6 linked regions of the Homo sapiens genome follow. The protein of the gene in region 1 purifies or fractionates together with the protein of each later gene. This does not show direct contact. Each region holds a gene or a part of one and is shown in the gene's direction. Other genes may lie near its edges. The genes, in order: KCNJ2, STK38, AKAP5, UBE4A, HK1 and EIF3M.

The links.
Region 2: the proteins of KCNJ2 (region 1) and STK38 purify together in Homo sapiens (affinity purification with western blotting; one study listed by BioGRID). This does not show direct contact.
Region 3: the proteins of KCNJ2 (region 1) and AKAP5 purify together in Homo sapiens (pull-down; one study listed by IntAct). This does not show direct contact.
Region 4: the proteins of KCNJ2 (region 1) and UBE4A purify together in Homo sapiens (affinity purification with mass spectrometry, with the first as the bait; one large-scale study listed by BioGRID). This does not show direct contact.
Region 5: the proteins of KCNJ2 (region 1) and HK1 purify together in Homo sapiens (affinity purification with mass spectrometry, with the first as the bait; one large-scale study listed by BioGRID). This does not show direct contact.
Region 6: the proteins of KCNJ2 (region 1) and EIF3M purify together in Homo sapiens (affinity purification with mass spectrometry, with the first as the bait; one large-scale study listed by BioGRID). This does not show direct contact.

Annotation. Positions count from the first base shown.
Region 1 is NC_000017.11:70,171,687-70,176,970, forward strand, and holds part of KCNJ2 (inward rectifier potassium channel 2), read left to right. Parts: intron 1-3,137; 5' UTR 3,138-3,353; coding exon 3,354-4,637; 3' UTR 4,638-5,284.
Region 2 is NC_000006.12:36,518,867-36,524,150, reverse strand, and holds part of STK38 (serine/threonine-protein kinase 38), read left to right. Parts: intron 1-2,333; coding exon 2,334-2,417; intron 2,418-5,284. UniProt on the Homo sapiens protein: Serine/threonine-protein kinase that acts as a negative regulator of MAP3K1/2 signaling. Converts MAP3K2 from its phosphorylated form to its non-phosphorylated form and inhibits autophosphorylation of MAP3K2.
Region 3 is NC_000014.9:64,466,715-64,471,750, forward strand, and holds part of AKAP5 (A-kinase anchor protein 5), read left to right. Parts: intron 1-1,417; 5' UTR 1,418-1,680; coding exon 1,681-2,964; 3' UTR 2,965-5,036. UniProt on the Homo sapiens protein: Multivalent scaffold protein that anchors the cAMP-dependent protein kinase/PKA to cytoskeletal and/or organelle-associated proteins, targeting the signal carried by cAMP to specific intracellular effectors.
Region 4 is NC_000011.10:118,361,753-118,367,036, forward strand, and holds part of UBE4A (ubiquitin conjugation factor E4 A), read left to right. Parts: intron 1-3,287; 5' UTR 3,288-3,328; coding exon 3,329-3,449; intron 3,450-5,284.
Region 5 is NC_000010.11:69,391,847-69,395,346, forward strand, and holds part of HK1 (hexokinase-1), read left to right. Parts: intron 1-278; coding exon 279-462; intron 463-3,103; coding exon 3,104-3,259; intron 3,260-3,500. UniProt on the Homo sapiens protein: Catalyzes the phosphorylation of various hexoses, such as D-glucose, D-glucosamine, D-fructose, D-mannose and 2-deoxy-D-glucose, to hexose 6-phosphate (D-glucose 6-phosphate, D-glucosamine 6-phosphate, D-fructose 6-phosphate, D-mannose 6-phosphate and 2-deoxy-D-glucose 6-phosphate, respectively).
Region 6 is NC_000011.10:32,602,063-32,606,813, forward strand, and holds the end of EIF3M (eukaryotic translation initiation factor 3 subunit M), read left to right. Parts: intron 1-216; coding exon 217-337; 3' UTR 338-748; coding exon of another isoform or gene 749-958; 3' UTR 959-4,202; downstream 4,203-4,751. Other genes in the region: CCDC73 (coiled-coil domain-containing protein 73), read right to left, coding at 749-958. UniProt on the Homo sapiens protein: Component of the eukaryotic translation initiation factor 3 (eIF-3) complex, which is required for several steps in the initiation of protein synthesis.

The DNA of each region.
Region 1 (5,284 bases):
TTTTTTTCCATTGCTTATGCTTAATTTTGGCTCAGCCTATAAATAGTCTTAACATGAACAGCACCACATGTAACCTCTCAATTTCCCAAAAATACTTTCTACATCATGGGTTATGGCCTGGATAAAAATGATTATTTGTGTCCATGAAATTTACATCTAGACCCTTAAATATTTTGGCTGGAAGGGAGATTTACACATTGTTCATCAAATCAAATTTCAATTCTCTGGATTTGTATCACTTAGTGTTCTCATCTACTCCTCATTGATTGCATCTCAAACATTATTTTGAATATATGCTTGAAATAAAGTTGCATGTAAGCCCTGTTTTTTTAATGATAGCTTTTCTCAGCTGCTCACGAATTGGTAATTGCTAGTGAGAGGACCGGGCAAGGAAGTTTTCTGCTTGCTTAAAGTCGCTCAGGCATGTGGGCAGGTTAACAGTAAAAGCAATTTTTACCATGAAATATTAAGACCGTTACCCCATCAAACCTTGACAGGTTCTAGACTTTAGCTATGTAATCAGCTCCACAAAAAGTCTGCATACATATATGTGTGTGCACCTGCATACACACATAAATCTGTTTGGGGGCATATCTATTTAAAGTGGCAAAAGTTTTCTTTTTGCCAAAAAAAAAAAAAAAAAAAAAAAAAGCCCAAAACTCCTCTTTTTCTCTTTCCAGGAAGAAATGGTAAAATTTCTAAATGATGCTCCACATGTGGAACAAATTCTGTTATTAGCAATGGAAATAAGACAATAATAGTCTCTCAATACAGGCTACTTTCAAGATTCTAAATGTGGAAAGCTATTCATAGGAAGCTGGTATTGTGTGATTTGTGGAATTCAAACAAATGTCCTGGGGTCAAGATTTTTGGAAAGTCATAATTCAGTCTTTAGATTTCATATGGTTGTTATGTTTTAATCTGGAAGGAGTACAGAAATAAGTCAGAAGAAATTTGAGACTGTCTACTCATGGCCCCTAATGGTAACTCACATGGAAGGATTGTTTTGAATCATGAAAAGGGAATTTCTTGGTGTCAGCTTATAATACAAAGTTCTGAAGTCAATCAGAACTCAAAAATACAAAGCATTCATTGAATGAAGTTCTTCTCCTTTTTTTGAAACGTATACCTGCGTTTGGTGTTGTTGCTGTCTCTGTCTGTTTAGTAATGTGAGAAAACTAAGATGAAATAATTGCTTAAAAAATGCTGTCCATGTACAGGATCTAGAACTTCGAGGGGCAGGATTCTTGTTTCTTTGGTCCAAGTGCAAACTTCACAGGGAAGCAGACAAAACATTGAAGCAGGTGGAAGGTTAGGAAAGCACAGTAACTTCTTTTTATAAAGTAATTCAAAGGCACTTTCAAACTGAGCATCATTTAGGTGTCAAAAGCTGCCAAAATGTAACACACATTGCAATTTTCAAAGATGACTAATCTCAGGAAAAATGTGTTGGGGCACATTCTTGCATAATAACTTGGATAAAGAAGAAGTCAAAAGACAGTAACAAGGCATTTTCAAAGGCAATGCACCTTGCCTCTTCTTAAGGGAATGCACAAAAACAACATAAATGGATTGCTTTATTTGTTTGCGGCTGGCTTGGCTGATATCGGTTCTATTAACTGTTTAATCTTAATGGATTTAGAGGAGAAGGAAAAAGTGGAGTCTTCATTATCAGGCATCAACAAATTTCTGACTCTTTTCATGAGTTATTCATTGCCCCCCTTTAATATAGCAGAAGGATTTGGTTGTATGAAAAGTTGAAGATGGGCTTTATTTTTCAGTTCTAACTCTTATTAGTTTTGTTATTACACATTTGGTAAAGAAAACACCTTAGACTTTCTCTTAGCTTTTTGTTAGTTAGTCAAGGGAAATAGTTTCTTAGGAGTGAAGATGGAAAGTTGAAGTACATAGATAGTTCTTAGCTAGGGAAGACTGAGGCAATAGGAGAAAACTGAGAACTACTATTTGCACATATTAAGTAAAGGTGAGTGCCTTCTCCATAGGAACCTATACCAAATAACAGCGCTGGAAGTGAAAGTAAGCGGACTGGCATTTATGATCTGTCCTTACACAGTTGTCTCTGTCTGAGAGAACACAGCACTGGACTCACATGAAATGAGTTCCTGCCTTATCTCAATCCGCTAAAGACCTGGTCCTTTGGCACAACGGTGCTTACTTCCTAGCCTGTCATTACACATGACAGCCCCATCTCAGGAGAATTTCAGGGCTCTTATTGCTAGGCAACAGAATTGCTCTCTATCCCCCAGAGCAAACCTGCATCTTCAGAGTCTTCAAGCCAGAATTACCTGTACTAATAGAGACTTAGCAGGCATTTCTGCATAGTGGTTGCTTAAAGTGTGAGAAGTGATGAAGCAAGCCCAAACAGTATCCAGAAACTGGGATCCATTTCAGATTATTATAAGCAATAGGGGCAGTATTCACCATCGTAGGAGGTTTTGTCCACTAGTTCCCTCTATTTTCAGGATACACACTCAGTCAAGCCTACTCCAAAATCCACTTCACTATTCTATTTGTAGGTGGGAATCTGACTTTCTTCCTCTAGCATTTCGTCAGCCTATCCGGTCTGCTCAGTTATATCATTTAAACAAAATAGTCTGTCTTCCGATTTCAACCTTGCCATCAGGGACTCTAATATTCTCCCGTAATGCACATGCAACTCAGTGGATATCAATGCTGCGTCCACGTGAAGTTTTCTAAACATGTCCTTTTTCCAAAAATTTTACGACAAACCTTGGAATCAGACAGTCTTTCATCTGCTTAACAGGGATCCTAGCAAGTGGGGCAGGCAGAAGAAGAGAATAAGAGAAGGGAGAGGTAGACCTGAACAATAGAATATTCTAGATCCCTGGCCAAAAAGAAGGGAAAGGGGACCTGACCTGACATTTTGGTTGAACAACTGTCACAGACAACTCTTCTATGTTTAACGACTTTATGCTTTTAAATAAAAGTTTTACAAAGCATGCTTAGGATACAAAGAAATTTAAAACCTTATAATTTAATGTAAATTATACTTATCTTTACCTGATTATGTGTTTTTGTTAGGATATATTGTCTTAGACAGTAGAATTCTTTAAGAGTGGCTTATTTTGTAATGCACAGTCTCTCTTTTCTTGCAGGACATGTTCTCTGGATGTCAGCTGAGTCATTAAAGTAACTCTGCATGTCAGTAGACAGACCTTGGTAGAACCACAAGGCTCCCAGAGACACCCATCTCTCCTCATTTTTTTGGTGTGTGTGTCTTCACCGAACATTCAAAACTGTTTCTCCAAAGCGTTTTGCAAAAACTCAGACTGTTTTCCAAAGCAGAAGCACTGGAGTCCCCAGCAGAAGCGATGGGCAGTGTGCGAACCAACCGCTACAGCATCGTCTCTTCAGAAGAAGACGGTATGAAGTTGGCCACCATGGCAGTTGCAAATGGCTTTGGGAACGGGAAGAGTAAAGTCCACACCCGACAACAGTGCAGGAGCCGCTTTGTGAAGAAAGATGGCCACTGTAATGTTCAGTTCATCAATGTGGGTGAGAAGGGGCAACGGTACCTCGCAGACATCTTCACCACGTGTGTGGACATTCGCTGGCGGTGGATGCTGGTTATCTTCTGCCTGGCTTTCGTCCTGTCATGGCTGTTTTTTGGCTGTGTGTTTTGGTTGATAGCTCTGCTCCATGGGGACCTGGATGCATCCAAAGAGGGCAAAGCTTGTGTGTCCGAGGTCAACAGCTTCACGGCTGCCTTCCTCTTCTCCATTGAGACCCAGACAACCATAGGCTATGGTTTCAGATGTGTCACGGATGAATGCCCAATTGCTGTTTTCATGGTGGTGTTCCAGTCAATCGTGGGCTGCATCATCGATGCTTTCATCATTGGCGCAGTCATGGCCAAGATGGCAAAGCCAAAGAAGAGAAACGAGACTCTTGTCTTCAGTCACAATGCCGTGATTGCCATGAGAGACGGCAAGCTGTGTTTGATGTGGCGAGTGGGCAATCTTCGGAAAAGCCACTTGGTGGAAGCTCATGTTCGAGCACAGCTCCTCAAATCCAGAATTACTTCTGAAGGGGAGTATATCCCTCTGGATCAAATAGACATCAATGTTGGGTTTGACAGTGGAATCGATCGTATATTTCTGGTGTCCCCAATCACTATAGTCCATGAAATAGATGAAGACAGTCCTTTATATGATTTGAGTAAACAGGACATTGACAACGCAGACTTTGAAATCGTGGTCATACTGGAAGGCATGGTGGAAGCCACTGCCATGACGACACAGTGCCGTAGCTCTTATCTAGCAAATGAAATCCTGTGGGGCCACCGCTATGAGCCTGTGCTCTTTGAAGAGAAGCACTACTACAAAGTGGACTATTCCAGGTTCCACAAAACTTACGAAGTCCCCAACACTCCCCTTTGTAGTGCCAGAGACTTAGCAGAAAAGAAATATATCCTCTCAAATGCAAATTCATTTTGCTATGAAAATGAAGTTGCCCTCACAAGCAAAGAGGAAGACGACAGTGAAAATGGAGTTCCAGAAAGCACTAGTACGGACACGCCCCCTGACATAGACCTTCACAACCAGGCAAGTGTACCTCTAGAGCCCAGGCCCTTACGGCGAGAGTCGGAGATATGACTGACTGATTCCTTCTCTGGAATAGTTACTTTACAACACGGTCTGTTGGTCAGAGGCCCAAAACAGTTATACAGATGACGGTACTGGTCAAGATGGGTCAAGCAAGCGGCCACAAGGGACTGAGGCAAGCACAATGGTTTCAAAGAAAGACTGTAAGCTCCATGATTAGCATAAAGCACTAACCATGTCTCCATGTGACCCGATGGCACATAGATGTTGTAGAATAAGTTATGGGTTTTTATGTTTTGTTTTGTGTTTTTCCAAAACTTGAACTTGCAGGCAAGCCTTGGTTGGGTATTTGATTTATCCAGAATGCTTCTCTTTAGGGAACAAGGATGTTTTTAATGGCATAACAAAGGCAAGACTCTGCCTTAATTTTTGAAAAGCTGCTAACTACATGAACACAAATGTGTATTTTTGTTGCAGTGTAGTTTTCCTTTTGTGTAATTTTAAAGTCAGTGTTGAATTTTATTGAAAGCTCATGATGCGCTTCAAAGTGGCAAGTATTTGGCTATTAACTGCCAAAACAAGAGCCTGATTTTTTGAGGCCAGTAATTCGTTTGCTAGAATTGATTTTTTTTCTCTCTCTCTTTGTTACATAAGGGCATTATGTAACACTAGCCGAATGGTAGCCTCTGGGTTGTTGT
Region 2 (5,284 bases), on another chromosome or scaffold:
TTCTCTGTTTTGCCAGAGATGGTGTTGGTGTTTAAATATTGACTTAGGGGGAGAGTTGAAAGGTAGAAGGAAATCAACATTTATTATTTACAGGCTGCTTTTTTCCCATAATCAGGACAGTAACCCATTTTATAGATGGTGAAATTAAGACTCTAAAGGTATATATAATGTCTCTTGTTATCACACAGCCATTGAGTACTGGGACCAAAAGTTGGGCTCTACTTCCTGAACTCAAAGAGCTTGCTTTTCCCAGTACTGCACTGCCTCTCGAGAAGGAAACTAATAGTGTATCTCCACCCTTTATTTCTCCCCACCAGATTGATACAGCTCTAAAAAGATGACCCTAGGAGGGAGGATTTACAGAAAGGAGTTATATAGGTAGTGGTGGAGAGTTGAAAGCATTTGCGACTTTGTCCCCGCAATTCTTGGAAATGATCCTGCTTGGGCACAAGAGCAATCTGTTGGGGAGAGCTTGAAAGAGCCCATGCAAGGTCATTCCTGTTAATGAAAAATGCCCAAACTGGATGACCTACTGACGCAATAATTGCAAGTATAAAAGGAGCAGTATATTATTAAAACCTGGTACCCCGGGGCCAGGCACGGTGGCTCACTCCTGTAATCTCAGCACTTTGGGAGGCCAAGGCGGGCGGATCACAAGGTCAGGAGTTCGAGACCAGCCTGACAACATGGTGAAACCTTGTCTCTACTAAAAATAGAAAAATTAGCCGGGTGTGGTGGCACGTGCCTGTAATCCCAGCTACTCAGGAGGCTGAGGCAGGAGAATTGCTTGAACCCAGGAGGCAGAGGTTGCAGTGAGCCGAGATTGCACCATTGCACTCCAGCCTGGGTGACAGAGCAAGACTCCATCTCAAAAAAAAAAAAAAACAAAAAACCTGGTACCCCGGGGAAATGTGAATAGTATTCAGAGGCACAGGTGATAGATTGATCCCTCAGTGTTCAGAATTCCTATTGGCTTCTTGAAAGAGGGAAAAGTATAGTACCACCTCTGAAAGAGCTTTCTGTTTGGCAAGGAAGGGTTGTGGTACTCAATTAGGAAAAACATGAAGAAAGGTTCAGGGAGAAGAAAACCTACTTATTTTGGGAGAAGAGGGGAGGACATGCAGGAACTTGCAGTGAAATTTTTCTTTTGGTTGTAAATTTTCTTCATAAAATTATCTGTTTTCTTTAAGAACATTGGAAAACATAAAAGAGAAGGAAAACTACATAAAACACAATTTCCCTAATTACACATTTTGAATTTTCTTCTTCTTCTTTTTTTTTTTTTTTTTTTTTTTGAGACAGAGTCTTGCTCTGTTGCCCAGGCTGGAGTGCAATGGCTTGATCTTGGCTCACTGCAACCTCCGCCTCTCGGGTTCAAGTGATTCTACTGCCTTAGCCTCCCGAATAACTGGGATTACAGGCACCTGCCACCACACCCAGCTAATTTTCGTATTTTTAGTAGACGGGGTTTCACCAGGTTGGCCAGGCTGGTCTCGAACTCCTGGACCTCAGGTGATCCACCTGCTTCGGCCTTCCAAAGTGCTGAGATTATAGGTGTGAGCTACCGCGCCTGGCCTGAATTTTTTGTTTTTCTTTCCAGACGTTTTTCCTAAGCATGAAGTTTTACTTTGTTATTATTATTATGATTAAGTGACAAGGTTTCACTGTGTTGCCCAGGCTGGAGTGCAGTGGCTGTTTACAGGCACGATCTCACTACTGATTGGCATGGGAGTTTTGACCTGCTCCATTTCTGAACTGGGCCTGTTTGCCCTTCCTTAGGCAACCTGGTGGGCCCCCCCTCTGCCACCCTGCTCCTGGGAGGTCACCATATTATGCTGAACTTAGTTCAGACACCTGATCAGCATAATGCACCATAGCTCATAACTCCTGAGCTCAAGCGATCCTCCTACCTCAACCTCCCAAATAGCTGGGACTACAGGTATACACCACCATGCACAGCTACTTTTGTTTTAATTAAACATCATTGTAATCATTTACTTAGATTTTCTGAGCTGACTGGATGACATGTGTCAGAGGTGTAACGAGTCCTTAAATTTGAAATTGAAGGTTTTAAATTAGATTGGCTTGTTCAACTAAGGAACCAAAGCTGTTCAGATGTAGAGGTATTTGAGGATGTTTCCAGCATCGACTTTACTGTGTGTAATGTATTCATTTTGGAACACTGAAAAGCATTTTCTTCTGCTTTGTTATTACTAGTTGCTCATGTTAAAATTGTAATACTTTTTCAGTTAATTATTGCATCCTATAACACATGAAAGCATTAGGTTGGTAGTACGAGTTTTTGACTTGGCATTTCTTTTATAACTTTTTAGGTACGGCTTGTTCAGAAGAAAGATACGGGACATGTGTATGCAATGAAAATACTCCGTAAAGCAGATATGCTTGAAAAAGAGCAGGTAAAGCACAGTTGTAGCAGTGCTTTTAGCTTATTAATTTTTGTCTCCTAAAACTTTTCTTTTTGTTTAATTGAAATATATATTTTTATTACAGTTTTCTTTAGCTCTGTCATGTATGACTATATATATAATACTACCTTTTTCCCCCTACAAAGAAGCAGTTCATATTTAAAATCACAAATAATGCCTGTAGGTTATATGCAATCTTTTAAAAATTGAAAATCTGTTCCAAAAGCAGCTCTTACTTGTGTCTTCCAATTGATCACAAGATGTCCTTATTGTGAGAGCCTTTTTTTTTTGAGGTCGTACGTGGTGTGGTAGTGTGTTTCTTACCAAATGCTGAGAAATAGAAATTGTATATATATCTCATAACTAAGGACTAGGAATTAGAATTTGGAATTTATAATCTAAAATGTGTCTTTATATGCTTCATTCTGTTTACCTAAACCAAAGTTGAGTCTTCTAGGTAGCTCATCGGTACCTGAAAAAGACCAGCCTTCTAATTTCTGAATGAATTTGAAAAATACAATGCAAATGACAGAACAATGCAAATTCTCCTTTAATGATAAAGGATACTTTCTAAAACCAAAACCTGGTTTGCAAATCAATTTATAAAGTGCCTTATGCAAAATAAATAAGGTTTTAAATATTGGAAAGTATATTTTAAAAAGCAAGAATAGACTTTCTATAAATCTAGTTTAATGTAGCTGGTTGCTTAAGAAAAGATTGCAGTGGGTGATGACCGCAAATGTCCTGTAAAAGATTTGATGTTATAGGAACATGGAGACCCTGTGACAAGGAGAACTCCTAATTTAGGGCCAAAGAGGGGGGATGGAGATTGGCCCCACATCCAATCCTTTCTACCTCTTGAGAGGAGATATAATCACTGGTCTTCCCTGTCTTCATTTAAATGCCACCCCAAAATTTGGAATTTTTATTTTCTCTCAAATTTTCATGTGTTACCGAGAAGCTTTAGACTCCCAGGAATTTCAGTTGGGAGTATCAAATACCTGGGCGGTAAGTCTTGAGACACTATAGTTTATGCTAACGCCAACCTTTTTCAAAATTCATAGTAGGCCGGCCTACTTACATACTATCTACAAATTAGTGTGTGGTATGGGTGTGTAGGCACTGAAAAAGTTTCAGTTAATCTTGAGAAGGAAAATATAAAGCTTCTGCATTAATTAGTATGTTTGCATCTCATGAGTAAGTTTTGTTTTTGCAAGGTATGTTTCCTACAGTTTTAACCAAGGCTTAAGACCTCTTTTTATTAAATATTAACTGTCAGAGTAATACTGCAAAACAAAGTACATATGATTTTCAGTTAGTAATTTTATGTATACCAGGTGCCCCGCATGGTTTCTAACAGAGGATGATCCAGACATAATGTGTAAAAAGCCTTTTCGCAAATATTGTGCCTTCAAAATCACTTTCTAAAACTTTCCTAAATGAAAGTAAAGAAACTATTAGAATTAACATTTTAAATGATGCATTAACTTATGGATTAAATGGTACATTAACTTAAATTGTTTAGCTCACCTTAGCTGAGAACTCAACTCCTCAACTTAACAGATCTCATTATGAGCCAGTTAAAGTCTCTGGCCACAGACTCTACCTGGCTTAGCCATCTTGAAGAAGCATGCATTGGTTTTGTGCTAGATAAAAGATGGAAGTAGACCAGTGCAAATTCATCACCATTTTGGGGTAGGGCTGACAAAGTAGAGGTACAGAGGCAAAATTGTTTTTTTGTTTGCTTTTACTAAATAAACTGGGTAGGAATTAAAGCTACCCACTGAGAGTTCAGGTTATTTTTCTGCTCCACGTGGTGGAAATTTTTGCTACCTGGAAAAATTTAAAGGGTAAGACATGACATCTAACTAGCTTCTGATGTTTCTCTTCCAGTGCAAAAGGAAAACCTTCAGTTGTGATGCCAGTATACAGTTATTGATGGGACAAAAAACTGGCTTTTATTTCTGCTTTCTTAGGGCACAGGATAGCAACTAGCACCCCCCACCTTATTAAATATTTATGGAATAGGGGAAAGAGAACCTTTTTGTATAAATTGCACCTCAGACTCTTCCCTCCCTTAATCTATATTCAGCCAACTCCACTTTCAAACCATGAGGTTTCTTGCTACTGTTTCAGCCTCAAGAGAAAGGCAAGGTGTGCTCATGGTAGCTTTCCCCTTGACAAACAGGAAATGTTATGGGCACCATTGTGTCCTCCAGGGTGAGTGACAAGTGGTAATTGTAGTGCCTCTCCTTTTCTCTGGCTCCCTGCAGTAGGTAGGGAGCTTAATGGGAGCCAGGGGAGACAGGCAGATGAAGGCTGCCTTCTACTGTATTAATGTCTTGTAGTGACTGGGTCCTAGCCATGGCTGTGGGGCAGCAAGCAATGTTACTGTTTCCCAAAAGCTTTGCTTCTGTATTAAGGTCAAGTAAAGGCAGATGCTTTACTTGGTTTCATTGTGTTTCATAGCACTGTTTCTTTTCACCCTTATTGTCCATTTTTTCCCACCCCAATACCATAAGTACAGATGTAAAGATGTAGGTTTTCTGTACAGTTGCAGCTTTTAAAAAAATTCCCCAAAGAATGATTTTAGTAGATACTGAAAACTCAAATACATAAAGTCAAATGCCTCTGGGCCTCCAAGAGTTAGCATAGAAGCCTGAAGCAAGTTAGATATAAGACCAGGGGAGAGGGTGTTGAAATGGAAGAGTAATGGAAGAGTGCCTTGTCTCCCTAAAGACATGTCAATAAAACAAGCATCATATCAAACATTGTATTAAACCAAACAACAGCCATGGACTAAATTTGCCAACAGCCATGGACTAAATTTGCCAATTTGTGAACCTTGGTACATGTTT
Region 3 (5,036 bases), on another chromosome or scaffold:
GTTCATAAAATTATGGGTTACCCAAATGAAACTTCAGTGAAGGATTTACATAAAAACAATATAAAGAATGAGTCCCTTTGCTTATTTTAGGGCATCCACCCACTAAAATTCATAGGATCTTTGTTGGATAATCACCTCCCATTTCCATTCTTTGGTGCCATCATACCATTCTAAGGATTAAATTTTCAATACACCTTTATATTATCTAAGTTTGCCAATTGCATAGTTTGCCAACTTATTTTTGGCTTTTAAATTAGTTCCTGAACCAAAAAAATAAAATATAAAGAATTTCAAAAGCTTGGTTTTCAAATGACAAGAACTCAGTCTACTCGTGGTTCAATTATGAGTTGATAAGTGCCTTATGGTTAAATGACCATTAATCAATTTTTTAATTTTTTTACTAATGAAACACTGCAGATTAGTATCCCCAAACAATTCATTTTCTGACGAAACTCTTAAAGCCCAGTTTCAGAACATAAGCTTTAAGCAACAAGCAATCTTGTGTTAATCTGAGCTCTGTTACAGCTCTGCCGTAATCTCAGCCAAATTGCTTCATCTGTACGTGGTGATACCACCATCTTTGTAATATTGTGGTGAGGATTAGAGATGTATGTAAAAGTGCATGCACTGCCTAATACCCAAGAATTGCTCAATAAATGTCAGCTATTACTACTCTTACTGACTTCCAACTATGTGCAGATTATGGTGGAAACATGTGATACAGCAGATACAGTACTTAAATGAAAATGTCAAAATTGTACAACTAATTTAAGAGTGGGAAATGACAGTAATGCTAAATTTTCCTAAGAATATGTATGAAAAATAGCACTTCCTTGATGGAACATACATTTTTAGAACAGAAACCTTATGTTATAATGGTAAAACTAGAGAGTCAAAGTCTCTAGTTCTAACTCTGGCTATGACCTTATCTAGTTGCATGGCTTTTGACAAGACAACTGCTCCCCTCTGGAGTTCAGTTTTGTCATCTGGCTGGATTTGAGTAATCTCAAATAATCTCTAAAGTCCTTTGCAGCTTTAAAATTATCTATTGAGTGTGATAAAGATTACATCAGCTTGCTTTTCATCCTGCACTTCATTTTTGGTTCTTGTTGTTTGCTTAACTTGCACTTTAGAGTCATAAGCAATTCACACAGACAACACAACTAAAGAACTGATAATATCAGACTTGCAGGGTAATCCAAAATGAAGTTTCAACAAGGAGGATAAAACAAAATAGAATCACACTGAACTCTTTAATAGGGCCAAAGTAAACCCCAATGTTTATTCTCCAGTCATTTCATTAAGTTATTATATGGAAAATATGCCTGGTAGAATCTTATACATTCACTGAAATAGTCTCCACAGAAAATAATAGGCTCATAGTGAAATAAAATACCACTTTCTTTTCTCTCATCAGGTTGATCTTTAAATAAAGCAAAAATTTATCCAAAGAAGGGCTTTCATCAAGAAATTAAAGAGAGAAATTACAAGCCATAGAGAAACTGGGCATTTCTATACTAGAGAAACCACCTAAAACAACTGTATGGAGTAAGATGAAAGGTATGAATATGCCTGGAAGAAATTTTACCTAGTGTGACATTTTTGCTCATCTTTTTGTCACAAAAGGCTGCTAAGGAAGAGAGAATACAGTTTTCTAGAGAATAAGAGTGCAGTGTAAAAATGGAAACCACAATTTCAGAAATTCATGTAGAAAACAAGGATGAGAAGAGATCAGCAGAAGGTAGTCCTGGGGCTGAAAGGCAGAAGGAAAAGGCATCCATGCTTTGCTTCAAGAGAAGAAAGAAAGCAGCCAAAGCACTGAAGCCCAAAGCTGGCTCTGAAGCTGCTGATGTGGCAAGGAAGTGTCCACAAGAAGCAGGAGCTTCTGATCAGCCAGAGCCCACACGGGGGGCCTGGGCCTCACTCAAACGTCTTGTAACACGCAGGAAAAGGTCAGAGTCTTCAAAGCAGCAAAAGCCATTGGAGGGTGAAATGCAACCTGCAATAAATGCTGAGGATGCTGATCTTTCTAAGAAAAAGGCAAAATCTAGACTTAAGATTCCCTGCATAAAATTCCCAAGAGGGCCAAAAAGGAGTAATCATTCCAAAATTATAGAAGACTCAGACTGCAGCATCAAAGTCCAGGAAGAAGCTGAAATTTTGGATATACAAACACAGACCCCATTGAATGATCAGGCAACAAAGGCTAAGTCAACCCAGGATCTAAGTGAAGGCATCTCACGGAAAGATGGTGATGAGGTCTGTGAATCAAATGTGAGCAATAGCACAACTTCTGGAGAGAAAGTGATTTCAGTAGAACTTGGATTAGATAATGGGCATTCTGCTATTCAAACGGGAACTCTAATCCTTGAAGAAATTGAAACGATCAAGGAAAAACAAGATGTTCAACCCCAGCAAGCAAGCCCACTTGAAACTTCAGAAACAGACCATCAGCAGCCAGTACTTTCTGATGTTCCTCCTTTACCTGCAATTCCAGATCAACAAATTGTGGAAGAAGCCAGTAACAGTACCCTAGAAAGTGCACCAAATGGAAAAGACTATGAAAGTACAGAGATTGTAGCTGAAGAAACTAAGCCAAAAGATACTGAATTGAGCCAAGAATCAGATTTTAAAGAAAATGGGATCACTGAAGAGAAATCCAAATCAGAAGAAAGCAAAAGAATGGAGCCAATTGCTATTATTATTACAGACACTGAAATCAGTGAATTTGATGTTACAAAATCTAAAAATGTCCCTAAGCAATTCTTAATTTCAGCTGAAAATGAGCAAGTAGGGGTTTTTGCTAATGATAATGGTTTTGAGGATAGAACTTCAGAACAATATGAAACACTCTTAATTGAAACAGCCTCTTCTCTAGTCAAGAATGCTATTCAGTTGTCAATAGAACAGCTGGTTAATGAAATGGCCTCTGATGATAATAAAATAAACAATCTTCTACAGTGACTTACTCTCCAGAGTCACGGCAGAAAAAACAAGCTTAATGAAGAATTCTTTTATACATTTGTGGCATTTCTTACTCAGTAACAAATGAGAGATTTATCATCTCTAGAACTTAAAAGGTACAATTCCAGCGCAGAAGTGCTAAAGATTAAGTCAAGTTTATAAAACTCTACCACTGAAATGCAGTCACTTCTGGATTGGAGGAAGTCAGCACAGATTGCAGTGTAAAATGACATAACATACAGGGAGTTGCTAAAATGGCATATGGAGATTGGAGTGCTTTGGGGGAGGAAGGTGTATTTATTGAGCACTTATGGTATGCCATAAGCTTTTTAATGACCTCTGATATAACAAAGTCTGGTTTCCTTTTGATAATTCAGCTCTGTGTATAGGCTAACATCACATTAAGTTTTTAAAAACTTATTTTTTACAGTGCACATATATGTTTAAAATGGTGAATAAGGTGAGCTACTTTTGTGAATGTGATTTGTAATTGTTACATTCCTAAGCAGCAGGCTTAACTCAAAAAATACATTGCATTTTCCCAATTTCAGCAGATAGTGTGCAGAATATGCATATTGATATTAAACGTGAGTGGTTTCCTAGTCTTAAGTCTCTTATAAGCGCTATTTGGCCAGGGGCAGTGGCTCACGCCTATAATCCCAGCACTTTGGGAGGCCAAGGCGGGTGGATCAGCTAAGGTCAGGAGTTCGAGACCAGCCTGGCCAATGTGGTGAAACCCCATCTCTACTGAAAATACAAAAATTAGCTGGGCGTGGTGGTGCACGCCTGTAATCCCAGCTACTTGGGAGGCTGAGGCAGGAGAATTGCTTGAACCCGAGAGGTGGAGGTTGCAGGGAGCCAAGATTGCACCACTGCACTCCAGTCTGGGCAACAGAGCGAGACTCCTTCTCAAAAAAAAAAAAAAAAAAAAAGAGAACCATTCACAAATCCTTCAATCAGGCAAATTGTTACTAAGTGCAAAAGTGTAGAAACAGGGAGAGTGGGTTTTTCCCCCGCTTTTCTTTCTGCCTCAACAGATCTGTATATATCCATTTCTGCATGGATTTATCTGTGAAAAGTTAAAAAATGAAACAGCAAAAACAAAACAAGGGGAATATTATTCTTCATCCAGGAGAAGGGAAAATTCCCAAGTAAATTATCACAGATAATATAGGATTCATCTTGCAGAATTACTTCTTTAAGAGCCATATTCATCAACTTCTCTCCAAAGAGGGGAGAGTAGATTCAAAGCCAGCCTGGTAGTAATGGTCCTGGAAAATCCTAATAATCTAGTGCAAATATTTATTCTCGGCCAAAAATGAGCCATGAATGTGGGTGAATAGAAAAGTGAAAAGTTATTGCTAAAGCACATTATAATTTAAATGTCAGTATTCCTTCATGTCTGTGTGTTGAGACCAGTAAAAAGCATTTTACATGAATATTGAAAGTTAACTTTTTCATCACTATTTTCTTTTCTTTTTTTTTTTTTTTTGAGATGGAGTCTCACTCTGTCGCCCAGGCTGGAGTGCAGTGGCGCGATCTTGGCTCACTGCAAGCTCCACCTCCTGGGTTCACACCATTCTTCTGCCTCAGCCTCCCAAGTAGCTGGGACTACAGGCGCCCACTACAACGCTCGGCTAATTTTTTGTATTTTTAGTAGAGATGGGGTTTCACCGTGTTAGCCAGGATGGTCTTGATCTCCTGACCTCATGATCCTCCCGCCTCGGCCTCCTAAAGTGCTGGGATTACAGGCATGAGCCACCGCACCCGGCCTTCATCACTATTTTCAATCCAGATATACTTTACAAAAATGAGAAGGGCTTATTTGCATTTTTATTTACATATTGAAAGGGAAGCATCTGATCTCATCAATGATTGCCATATTTTTTGAAAAAGTAATCCTATTTCAATCTTTCCTTGTGTGAAATGGCCATAATACCAGAGTGCACTTCCCTACCTCACAGGTTAGGATTCAAAGTGTGTATTCCCCCATTGTGTAAATTGAGTGATTGTGTTACTACTTGAAACAGATGAAGTAATAAAGATGAAGTATGAGATGTAAGGTATTTGTT
Region 4 (5,284 bases), on another chromosome or scaffold:
AAGTAGTAAAGCCCTTACCTTGAAGTAGGGTCATGGGTGATGCTGTTGATTACAAGGAGTTCAGAAAGAACTACATGTAAGATTGAAGCCATTCAATAACTACTTATTTAGGATTTTGTGATTGTGATGTATAATGCCAGACACAGAAGAAAGAATAATCAGATATGAACATGTAATCAGAAGAGCTTACAGCCTAGCAATGTAGAAGATCTGCTTAGAAATACAATGCAGAAAGTTTAAAATCCTAGTAAAAATAGAGGTAAAATGTAGAAAGCTAGTTTCTTTATACAGTGCAACAGTATAGTATTGAGAAAGAAGGAAGTAATGCAGTTTATGGTGATAAATTCTTTTTGTTTCTCTTGATAGTCTTTTTGTTTGTTTGTTTGTTTGAGACAGTTTCCCTCTGTTGCCCAGGCTGGAGTGCAGTGGCAACGATCTTGTCTCACTGCAACCTCCGCCTCCCAGGTTCAAGCAATTCTCCTGCCTCAGCCTCCTGAGTAGCTGAGATTCCAGGTGCACGCCACCATGCCTGGCTAATTTTTTGTGTGTTTTAAGTAGAGATGGGGTTTCTCCATGTTGGTCAGGCTGGTCTTGAACTCCTGACCTCATGATCTGCCCGCCTTGGCCTCTCAAAGTGCTGGGATCATAAGCATGAACCACTGTGCCCGGCCTTCTTGATAGTCTTAAGAGCTTCTCTGTCATATGTCCTATATTCCTGGCTTTCAGCTTCCTTTCTGCTTACGTGTTGCAGGTGATGCATGTCCTTTGTAATAATCTGGACACTTTTCAGTTGTGTTTTAAAAAACATCAAACTGGTTTAGGCATTTAGGGAAATTTTATTGGTTTTTATAACTGAAAAGTCCAGACTTATCTTTCCATCTCTCAATTCTGTTTTCTAGTGTATGTTGGCTTGGTTTTAGGCTAGGCCTTTTCTAAATGGTGTAAAGATGGCAACTCTATCTTACTGGCTTATCAACTCAATCAGGAGAAAACTCACTTTTCCGTAGATTCAGCTGAAGTCCTGAAGCTGGTATTCATTGACTCTGTTAGGCCTCCATAGTGTCTTGTGCCCACTCCTGGATCAGTTGCTTTGGCTGGAAAATGCTGTATTCTTTTTAGCCTGGCCAGACTTGTATGTTCATTCCTGGGGCTAGTGGGTGAGGTCAACCCCTTCTGAACTGGTCAGCCTCTTCTGGATTGAGTGGAGTGGATACCCAAAGGAAAAAAATGAATGTGATGTTTTAGAGAGAGAAATAACAAGAGCTCAATATACTTTTTGCATTCCTCTGGAATTTGTGGTATTTTAGGATGGAAGTAGAATGGTGGTCAGCTAACAATAAGACAATTCTTGGTGTTTTTACATTAACTACAGGTAATAATTAAACTTGTGCGGTAATTACATGGGGAAAATCCCTCTCATTAATTTCAATACTAAATATGGTATCTTTCCCTTTTTTTGCATTATTAAGCTTACTGAAATATACATAGCAAAAAATAAAATACAGAAGGCCAGGCGCAGTGACTCATGCCTATAATTCCAGCACTTTGGGAGGCCGCGGTGGGAGGATCACTTGAGGTCAGGAGTTCGAGACCAGCCTGGCCAACATGGTGATACCCCGTCTCTACTAAAAATCCAAATAACAGTTCAATTCCTTGAAGCAGTAAAGCTTTGAGCTGCACTGAGAGGAGACTAGACTGCCTAAGTCATTACAGCTAATTAGCCGTTAGCTCTTGTGTGGAAAAAATGGCAGAGGAGCATGAAGCAAGTGCTGAAGATGCCTCAGAATTGTCAAGAAATGTTATAAATAATCTCTTTCTCTGGTAAATAAGGGTAACTTTTTCGACCACATTAGCTTTTTTTTTTTTTTTTTTTTTTTGAGACGAAGTCTCGCTCTGTCACCCAGGTTGAAGTGCAGTGGCACAATCTCAGCTCTCTGCAACCTCTGCCTCCCGAGTCCAAGCAATTCTCCTGCCTCAGCCTCCTGCCTCCCAAGTAGCTGGGATTACAGGCACCTGCCGCCATGCCTGGCTAATTTTCGTGTTTTAGTAGAGATGGGGTTTCACCATGTTGGCCAGGCTGGTCTTGAACTCCTGACCTCAGGTGATCCACCTGCCTCAGCCTCCCAGGGTGCTGGGATTGCAGGCATGAGCCACTGCACCTGGCCCACATTAGCTTTTGTTGATATGATCCTGTGAGGAGTCTTGCCTCAATAAACCAAAGGTAGACCAAATGTTCTTTTTTTCTTCCTTTATACCCCTACTCCCGCTATTTCTAAGGTCTCTGTCCTTATAGCAGTTCAAGATCCTTATGAACAAAACATTCATACCCTTTGTCTCTTCCCACCCTTTTCAGTGTTGTATTTAATATTTCTATGTCATGGCCTTAAAATTTCAGAAAGGGGAGAAAGCCTTTCAGGGAGCCCTGTTTATTCTGTTGTGCCACTGAGTTCACTTGGTCTTGAATGAGGAAATGTAATCAGAAGAGTGTGAATGCAGGCTCAGCCAGCTCTACTAAACACCTTTGAGGTATCTATATTTCATATTACACAGTAGACCTGACCGTTGGAATTCGTGTTTCTTCAGTATTATTTTAAGAAATCAGGTAAACAGTGAAGGTTAGATATAGCATGAAGCAAAGACCATTTAATTTTTAGTGGAAGAAATATCAGTATTTTTAAGCCTAGAAATAAATAGATTGCTTAATCTATGTTAAAAACCCACAACATACAGCTGAACTGCTTCCAGTCCTGATTTGCCAGAGTCCAAATCTAAGATATGGGCTTTTACTTAATTTATATGTAGCTGAGAAATATCCATCCCCAGCCCTAAGTCATAGAAGTCCCTTGTCCTCACCCCAGTGAATGAGAACTAGACTGCCAGCTTAATTCTTGGGAAATCCATAATTCTTGTCTTATTATTTTTCAGTGCCACATTGTTATTACAATTAGTAGGTGAGTTCTCTCTTTGACTTCAATAATTCTTTCTACTTAACCTGTTTTCTTAAAGGTATTGCAAATAAAAGTATATCAACAGATTAATGCATTCCAGCTGAACGTTTTAGCCTTTTTAGTTTCAGCTATCCACAAATCAAGCCACCGAGTCCAGCTGGTAGGTTTGTAACCATTTTGCCAAAAATGTCTTGAGTTTGGGGACAGGAATTGGAAAATCTTAACCCAAAGTATTTTAAAATGTATTGTATTTGAGAAATGGGAAAAGAAACAACCACAGGTATATTACAGCTATTGTGTCATCTGCCCTCTTGTGTCTAATACCTGTCCTTTGAACAGCCTCTCCCACTAGGTCTGGATGGAGGATACCTTAAAGTGAAATGACAGACCAGGAGAATAACAACAACATCTCAAGTAACCCCTTTGCTGCTCTTTTTGGCTCCCTGGCTGATGCCAAACAGTTTGCGGCAATCCAAAAAGAGCAGCTGAAGCAACAATCTGGTAAGTGGAGGAGCCAATAGCAGCAAATAAGATGACCTAGAATGGGGTCTTCCCAAATTAAGTATTCTTTGAGTCCTTAATTGCAATTGGAATTTAAGTTTGGAACAAAAGTTGGTTTTTGTTTGTTTGTTGAGAGCAGAAATTGGGGTTTTTTGTTTGTTTGCTTTTATTGTTGGTTTTGTTGTGAGTCCCTCCCCTCCGCTGTCCTCTCCACTGTACAAAAAGAGACCAGGTAACAGGTGGTTCCATAGTAACAGATGCCAGTCGTGATCCCAAAGCTGTCAGGCTGTTTTCTTTAAAAGAAAAAAAAAATCACCTAGTAAAAGCTATTTAAATAAATGTTTTTAACATGGGACACAGAGGTGGTAAGTGTAGGTGTAGAAAGCAAGTCATGTGCAGCTATAGAAAGCAGATGTAAAAGGAAGAACTATAAAAGCTTTTTGACCTGTAGGCAAATGAGACTTGTTCTTAAGCTCAGCACTTCAAAGGCCCTCCCAAGCAAAGTGCTTCTTCTGTTCCGATGAGTGGCATCATTTGTAGCTTAGTCCTGTTAGGACAGACTTTTTTAAAAAATCTGATCCTTAGCCTTACTATGAAAAACATCAGAATAACATCTCAGTAATCAGAAAAAATGGTTTTCTTTCAGGCACCGAATTTAAGATCAAGTCCAGCTTCCTCCTATAAGGAGACATATACACTAGAAGAATTAGGATTTTTCTCAAATATGTTAGTCTTCTGAAGATATTCACAATCTTTCAAACCAGAAATTGCTCCCCTTCTCCTCTCTCCGAAAAGAATAATAGTGTTTTTCTTTTGAGAGAAGGAGAAGTGTTTGCATTTTCCCTTTATTTTGTTTATTTAAAAAAAAAAAAAACACTCAGGTGCATAGCTGACTTTTGGCCTTTCAGTTAGAAAGGGCTGAAGAAAAAAGAGGTAAAGGCAAGACAGATAAGTGATTGATGCAAGGGAAAAACAAAATCAATGTTGATTTTTTTTAACATGGTATTTTCAGTCTCTGAAATCTCTCCCAGATTTCTATGATACGGGGCCAGAATGGGAAACTCTGGTTTAGAAGATTGTAGGGGAAAAAGCAGAGTGAAAAATAGGAAAAATAAGGAATGAGAAAGTATGATTTATGAGTATGTGGTTGAGGGAAATTTTGCTAAACAGATTCTTAGCTTCTGTCACCATTGGAGGTCAGAGAAAAACTCAACAGTATAGCAGCTGAGCAACAGAACGCTTGTCCTTCTGGCTATAAACAGACATAAATCTGGCTAGAGTTGGGAGCATTGCAGGCACATGCCCTTCTGTTACTATTTTGGCACCTCATCATCCTAGTTTGTTTACACTGAGTTTATCATGCCACCAGGTCCAACCTGTTTCCACTAGCAATTAGTACTTTGCCAAAACCTTTGGCTTCCTATGTTGAGCTTATACTCACCACACTGAAACAACTCTTACTTTGAGAGTTTTACCTGGACTTTCAGACTAGCCATTCTGTCAATAGAGAAAAGTACATATAGACTCATATGTGGCATATAGTGAATAACACTACTTTTATGTAGTCATTCAACATGAATGATGGGGCTGGGCGCAGTGGCTCGCGCCTGTAATCCCAGCTCCTTGGGAGGCCTAGGTGGGCAGATCACCGGAGGTCAGGAGTTCGAGACCAGCCTGGCCAACATGACAAAACCCCGTCTCTACTAAAAACACAAAAATTAGTCGGGCATGATGACAGGCGCCTATAATCCCAGCACTCTGGGAGGCCAAGGTGGGCGGATCACCTGAGGTCAGGAGTTTGAGACCAGCCTGGCCAACATGGTGAAACCCCATCT
Region 5 (3,500 bases), on another chromosome or scaffold:
CTTCTATTAAAATAAACATAACCCTGCCTGGACGGGTGAACACATTGGCTCTTGGTTGAAAGTCAGCTAAGCAGGTGCCCTCTGGGTGATGTGGCTCAGACTCTCCATTTACATTTCAAATTTTTCCATTTCAAAATTGGGAAAGAAAAACTATTACTTTGTTCATCACAAAAAACGTGCCCCCTGCCTGTGGAACCTCAGGCCCCAGACCCCAGGCCCAGTTGCAAGACCCCCAAATGCAAGGCCACCGCTCCTCATTGCCCCCTCGTGTGTTCCAGGGACCGGCAGCAATGCCTGCTACATGGAGGAGATGAAGAACGTGGAGATGGTGGAGGGGGACCAGGGGCAGATGTGCATCAACATGGAGTGGGGGGCCTTTGGGGACAACGGGTGTCTGGATGATATCAGGACACACTACGACAGACTGGTGGACGAATATTCCCTAAATGCTGGGAAACAAAGGTAACCCCGCCTGGTGGAGAGGACACTCACAGTCAGGGTGGGGGCAGCACTTGGCTGCATTCTGCCACTTGCAGTGGAAGAAGTTTCTAGGAGGAGAGGTCTGAACAGAGGTTTCAAGACTGGACCCCCTGGCTCACTCCTGACCTTTGTCTTTTGGACAGCAGAGAACCAGGGAGGACAGACCCCCAACATGGTACAAGATGGCCCAGGGTTGATGCCTGTCTAGGGGCTGCCTGTGACTGTTTTTTAGCCTGGAGGATTCTGGCCTTCCGGTCCCCTTGCTGTGTTCCTTTCCCATCAGAATAACAAGGGGGTGGGGTGAGGGTGGCTGGGCGGCAGGTTGGTGTGAAGCAGAGGCCCTGTCGCAATCGTCCTTTCCTCCGTGAGCCTCCTGCACCACCTAGTGGCCTTGTGGAGCTTTGCAGCTCAGGTCTCAGGTACCATGTCTGAAATGGCAGTGTCTGCCCTTTGTCTCAAGCCCCCAGGAATCAGGCCATCCTCTGCCACGGCCAGGATGAGTTGGTCCAAGTTGTCTCCCTAGGAGCAGAAAGAAGGGCTGGAGCAGCACCCAGCATGAGTCACTCCCTAGCCCCCTCAAGGTTTTTGCCTTTTCTAAATACCACCCATGCTGTTATTTACTTAGTGCTTTTCTTCGAATCAGCTTACAGTTTTTTGTTTTTCTTTTTGTTTGAGGTGGAGTTTTGCTCTTGTTGCCCAGGCTGGAGTGCAATGGCGTGATCTCGGCTCACCACAACCTCCACCTCCCGGGTTCAAGCAGTTCTCCTGCCTCAGCCTCCCCAGTAGCTGGGATTACAGGCATACACAACCATGCCCAGCTAATTTTGTATTTTTAGTAGAGACGGGGTTTCTCCATGTTGGTCAGGCTGGTCTTGAACTCCCGACCTCAGGTGATCCGCCTGTCTAGGTCTCCTAAAGTGCTGGGATTACAGGTGTGAGCCACCGCAACCAGCCCTTATAGTCTTTTTCTTTTCTTTTCTTTTCTTTTTTTTTTGAGACAGAGTCTCACCCTGTTGTCCAGGCTAGAGTGCAGTGGTGCGAGCTCAGCTCACTGCCACCTCCTGGGTTCAAGTGATTCTCCTGCCTCAGCCTCCCAGGTAGCTGGGATTACAGGTGCACGGCACCACGCCCAGCTAGTTTTTGTATTTTTGGTAGAGACCAGGTTTCACCATGTTGGTCAGACTGGTCTCGAACTCCTGACCTCAGGTGATTGGCCCGCCTCAGCCTCCCAAAGTGCTGGGATTATAGGCGTGAGCCACCGTGCCCAGTGGCCTTTAAGGTCTTTACTGACATTTAATGAAGGAGGAAAAAGAGGAAGAACCAATAGTACCATAAAGAGATGGTAACTAAAAAATGAGTATAGTGAAGAACCGTGCTATTCAAGTCTAGCTGATGCTGTCGCCTACCAAATGACCTGAACTAAGACCCCCTTTGGGCTGAGTGCAGTCTATCATCAAAGTAATCCCAGCACTTTGGGAGGCCAAGGTGGGAGGATTGCTTGAGCTCAGGAGGTTGAGACCACCCTGGGCAACATAGGGTTGAGACCCTGTCTCTACTAAAAATTAATAACAATAATAACAACAATAATAGTAAGACCCCCTTGGTTAAAAAGCGGGGGGATCAGCAAGTGTTGGAAGGGGTTAAGGACATGTCAGCACCAAACTGGGGTGGTCTTTGTGGTGGAATGAGAAGGACTGGGTGGGACTTCGTAGTGGTGGCCCACCCCTCTGTGATTCCATTCTGTTTCATGTTCTTCCATGGACCACATGAAATAGGAGGAATCCTGGAGTTCCAAATTCCAGGGGACTCTTCTCAGCTTTGGGACACTGGGCTTGGGCATGTGCCATGGAAATGAATCAATCCTTTGTTATTTCTTGAGATCCTTGAGCATGGAGAGGGCAGGAAATTTGAAGTCCCAAGAACAGGTTGACCTCCAGTGTGTTGTGGTCACTGAATTCTCCCTCCTGTGTGGCCTCATCACTCTGCTGTGGGCTTGACCAGTACTCTGGGTATTTGCAAAACCTTTAGAAAAATCTAGAAACTTTCCTTTTTTTTGTCTTCTTGTTCCTTTAAGACTTAGCCCAGTCATTTGCTTATTCTGCAGATAGTTTTTGGGCACTTTCCTGAGGGCCCAGTGCTATGCTATGCTGTGCTGTGCCCTGGGGACTCAGAGCTGAAAAAGACACACATGCCCTGTCCTCTTGGGGCTGTCACTACAGCAGTGGTGGTGGGAGGCAGTGAGCTCAGGTGTGTTGTGAAGGAGGAGAATGGTGAGGTGTGTGGGAACCTGAAACAGGCAGGTAGAACCCAGGATCAGGAGGAGGACAGGCTCTCGGGGAAGTGACCTTGGGGCTGAGAGCTATCAGGCAGCTGAGGAGGGAGACCAGTCTAGCAGGTAGACATGAATGCTGGTGGTTTTGTTTCTGATGTGAGAGAGTGGAGGACTCCCTGGTCCTTCCTGGTCCTCCCACTCTGCCTCTGCGGCAGAGCACAGGGCTGGGCACATGGCTGTTGATGATGCGCTTGAGGGGCAGTAGGAGACGCGGAGTGACCGTGAGACCGAGGGGTGACAGTTCTCCTGGCCACTTCCCATAGACACCCCAGGCCCCTCCTCCTGTCTCAGGTATGAGAAGATGATCAGTGGTATGTACCTGGGTGAAATCGTCCGCAACATCTTAATCGACTTCACCAAGAAGGGATTCCTCTTCCGAGGGCAGATCTCTGAGACGCTGAAGACCCGGGGCATCTTTGAGACCAAGTTTCTCTCTCAGATCGAGAGGTGAGTGGGCAGTGTCTTCCCTGCCAGCGCCCACCCTTCAGAGGTCGCCTGGCTGGTGGATTGTGATGGGGGTGGTAGGGACCCTAGGGGACATTTTGGCCATTTTTGAGGATTTTTTTTCCTCTGGAATAGCAGACCCTGGGCATTTGCATAGTGAAATCTTATAATTTTATTATAAATTACTTTTCTTGGCCTGGTGTGGTGGCTCATGCCTGTAATCCCAGCACTTTGGGAGGCCGAG
Region 6 (4,751 bases), on another chromosome or scaffold:
TGTCTGCTTTATATAGTTGCTCAGGAGAATTAGAAGGCTTAGGATCAATATGGTAAAGATTTTTTTTAAATAATTATGTAATTCTTAAATTCTCTTACTATTCTAAATTAGGTATATTTAATCTTGCTTTTAACTGGATTCAAATCTGTAGTATTATAAAAGAATACCAGAGGCTAAAAGGTTGACTAACACTGTGTTTAATTTTTCAATTTTTAGTCATAGCACACATCGGACATTTGGAAAACAGCAGTGGCAACAACTGTATGACACACTTAATGCCTGGAAACAAAATCTGAACAAAGTGAAAAACAGCCTTTTGAGTCTTTCTGATACCTGAGTTTTTATGCTTATAATTTTTGTTCTTTGAAAAAAAAGCCCTAAATCATAGTAAAACATTATAAACTAAAAAAATTTGCCTAGTCTGGACAGTTATTGTCTCAAATTTATACTAAAATCACAAACTCCAGAGGATATGAAGTAATAAATTACAAGGGGTCACAATGTCTGTCATACAATACATAAATTCTGTTCTTTAAAAAAGGATATTGAAGAAGCAATGAGCACTTTAAAGAAAGGATAATATACAGAGAGAAGACAGAAGTAGAGTAATACAATTTCTTCACATTAGAAAAACTTGGAAAAGCAAAGACAAACTGTAGAGCTTTAAATACAACAGTCATTTTATTCTAGTAAAAACTATACCAGAATTTCAGTTACATAATTTCACTACTGAAAGCACTTATCTACATTATTTTAATCTGTTGTTTTTTTCCAACGTCTCTTCTGCTTTTCTTTTCTTTGGCTGGTTGTCATTTTCTAAACTTAGTAAATTTTCACTTTTATTTAGTTGATTCGTAATGAGGCTCTGCCAGTCATCATCACCAGAAGTATTTTTAGTCGTCTTGATTGCCTGCAAATGGCTTTGTAGTGGAGTTGATATCAGAGGCTTTGTTTTCACCTGGGAAAGATAAACTAATTTTACCTTCGAAATTATTATACAAAAGATTTTAAAGAGTCTGTAAAGCCTCTGCAGTTATGAGTATGTGGTAAAACCACCATCTCTTGGCTGATTTCCACTACCTTAGTAGTTCTGGCACCAGAAAAGTATACAATGTGAATGTGTAGGCTTATGTAGTAGATCTTCAAAATCTCTAATATATAACTGAAGTAAAGTGTACAAAAACTGCCTTTTACTACTTCATGTTTCCTCCCATGCTTCAGAACACCATTGTTGAAGAAACAGGAAGGGCAGTGAGATATTTGGAAGTTGGCATGTTTTCAAGACACTGTATTGGGTAATTTTAAAAATAGTGTGTTAAATAACTTTTTCATTTTAAGGTTCTTTTCTGATGTTAAAATACTTACTGGAAATTTAGAAAATAGAGTAAAGTAGAAAGAAACTAAAAATCATTAGTAATCCCTTATCCAGAGAGGCTTGTTGACATTTTGGTATTATTTGCTGCTAGCGTTTTTTTCTATTTTTAGCCTATTTGATCATTCTATAGAATTTTATGTATTTTCCTCTGTGAGCAGTTTCTTAGGTCATTAAAAACAATTGTCTATGGCTGCAAAATACTCCCTTTTATGGATGTTTGATATATCTCCTACTACTGAATGTTTGTTTCCAGTTTATCCCTACCAAAAATTAATTCGAGTTAATTTCATGCAAAACAATCTTTGATGTTTTTGAGAGATTCCCAGATAAAATTTTCTCTTCAAAAGGAATACTGGGCCAGGCACTGTGACTCATACCTGTAATCCCAGCACTTTGGGAAACTGAGGCGAGTGGATTGCATGAGCTCAGGAGTCGAAAACTAGCCTGAGCAACATGGCAAAACCCCATCTCTACCAAAAATTAGCTGGGCATGGTGGCATGCAACTGTAGTCCCAGCTCCTCGGAGGGCTGAGGTGCAAGGATCATTTGAGCCCAGGAGGTGAAGGTTGCAATGAGCCAAGATCATGCCATTGCACTCCAGCCTGGACAACAGAGTGAGACCCTCTCTCAAAAATAAATAATAGATAAAACAAAAGGAATACTGAATTGTTTTCAAAATAACAATTATGGTGGGCTTTCTTTTAAGATAGGGTCTCACCCTGTCACCTAGGCTGGAGTGCAGTGGCACAATCACAGCTCATTGCAGCCTTGACCTCCCTGGATTCAGGTGATCCTCCCACCTTCACCTCCTGAGTACCTTGGACTACAGGCATGTGCCACCACACCCAGGTAATTTTTGTATTTTTTGCCATGTTGCCCAGGCTGGTCTCTCTTAACTCTTGGGCTCAAGTGATCTGACCATCTCGGTCTCCCAAAGTTCTAGGATTACAGGAGTGAGCCATACTGTGTTGTGTTTTAGTTGAAAGGGATATACACGTGTATTTTAGAAATATGAAACAGGATAAGAATTACATTAAAATCACCCAAGATCCCAACCACCATTAAAGAGTTTGTGTAAATCTTCTGGTCTCTTTTCTGTATACACTTTTTAAATACTGGGGTCATATTTTTATTGGTTTATATGCTATGTTAAACATTTTTAGCATTTCCTCCTGTTCTTAAGTCTGTTAAGAGGATAGCTCCATCATATTCTGTGTTCTGCAAATTATTTCTGGACATTTAAATTGTAAGAAAATGGTCACTGTTAACTAGGCTGCAGTGATTATCATTTGTTCATAAATCTTTGTGAAGATCTTTGGGTACTGCCTTACATTAAAATCTTTTTCAATTTGACCAGTAAAAGTGGCATGTTAGTAACATTGTCATTTTCAGTGTTAGATTATGTAGTACTAAGTTTATTTTATTTTATTTTTGAGACAGAGTCTTGCACTGTCGCCCAGGCTGGAGTGCAGTGGCGCCATCTCAGCTCACTGCAACCTCCACCTCCCAGGTTCAAGCGATTCTTCTGCCTCAGCCTCCCGAGTAGCTGGGATTACAGGCACCCACCACGATGCCCAGCTAATTTTTTGTATTTTTAGTAGAGACAGGGTTTCACTATGTTGTCCAGGCTGGTCTCGAACGCCTGACCTCATGATCCACCTGCCTCGGCCTCCCAAAGTGTTGGGATTACAGGCATGAGCCACCCTGCCCGACCTAGTAATACTTTTTTTTTTTTTTTTTTTTAATGAACTTAAATGTTTAGAATGGTAAGTTCACGGCTCCCTAAGGAGTGTTCCTTTTGGATTGCTCTGTTTGGCTCCCTCCCTGAAATCCTATAGTCAGCCACTGGTCCCCTCAGAGAGTTTTACCTCTGATCTTTGGGGTGATTCTTTGTTCATATTTATCTGATTGGCTTTGTTCTTCCAAAAGTGTCTGCACAGGACTGCTAAGAGAACCTAGGCAAGTCATTTAATTTTTCTGGGCTTCAGTTTACTCATTAGCTTCTTTTAGTTCCCAGATGCTATTACTGGAAAGAATAACTAGTAATGGATAAAAACCTACATAAATATTTCCTATTTTGCCATCAAAGTGCTGGGTTCATTTTGGTGTATTTGGCATCCAAGTACAAATTAACAGTTTCCCAAAATCCTGATTCTTTGACTTTTTTATCTTGATGATGGAAAGGAAGGACACGTTTACTTGCTTTAGTTTCTTTCCCCTTAACTACCCACTTGCTGAGAGGGGTAGGAGCAGGGATTGGCTTTAGAGAAACAAGATACAGTGTAGATTAGCTAATGTTTGCGCTTAACAAAACTTGTCCTGTTTAACTTACCTGAGGGTTCTGCAGCCTACCGCAGTAATTTTAGTTCTAGCTGTTTTCAGATATATTGCCTTGTATCTTCGTTCTTTCGTCTCCTATCCTTTTTAGAAATTTATCACCTGTTTCTCTTTCAGCCTGACTTACAAAATCTAATTTTTGGCCTAAAAATTTCCCCTAGCTTGGTACTAGTCCTTTTATTTCTGCCTGTGATTATATTTTAAAATTAAACTTAAATGAATCTAATTCATTGGATATATAAAAAAAAAAGTAAGTGGCTTGCTTTGCTTACTCTGGTTTTCCATCCTCATTCCTGGATATAATCAAGATTGCAGTAGGCTAACAATCTAATGCTGAAAACAAGAATGAAAAACATACCATCTTTTCAAGTTACTTTGGACCCATAGAGAGAAAGTGGATTGGTACTTAATACCTTCCCTGAATTTAACAGAATTGATGTGGACTGTACATAAAATATGTTGAAAAATAAAACTATTTTTTTGGCTATAAGTCTTCATAAAATTCATTTATAACAGAGGTTGATAAACTTTTTCCAAAAAGTGCCAGAGTAAATATTTTCAGCTTTGTGGGCCAAATGGCCTCTTACAACTGCTCAATTCTCAGTGCCATGCCAAAACAGCCTTTACAATATGCAAAGGAATGGGTGTGACTGTGGTCTATTAAATTTATAAGGAGATCTACTTTTGAATTTGCCCCACATTACATAATTTGCAATCAAGCTTTAAGCTGGGACAATGAAGCTTACCATAGTACTTGGCACATAGTAATAAGCACTTAGAAAATGTCTATTCAGCCAGTGAATTGAGTTTGTTTTATATGCATCAATCTTTCAGAAGAAACATTTTTTCTATTGTGAAAGTTAAGAAAGTATAATATAGCATTTGACTAAGAGCCACAATATCTAGCCTAGGTCCACCACATATTGTGTCTTAATGACCCTGGAAAGTTATTTCACATTTATGTCACTGTTTCATCTGTAAAAAAAATTACCTTGCCAATGAAAAAGTTAAAAATTCTATAAAAATAAATTCTTTTTTT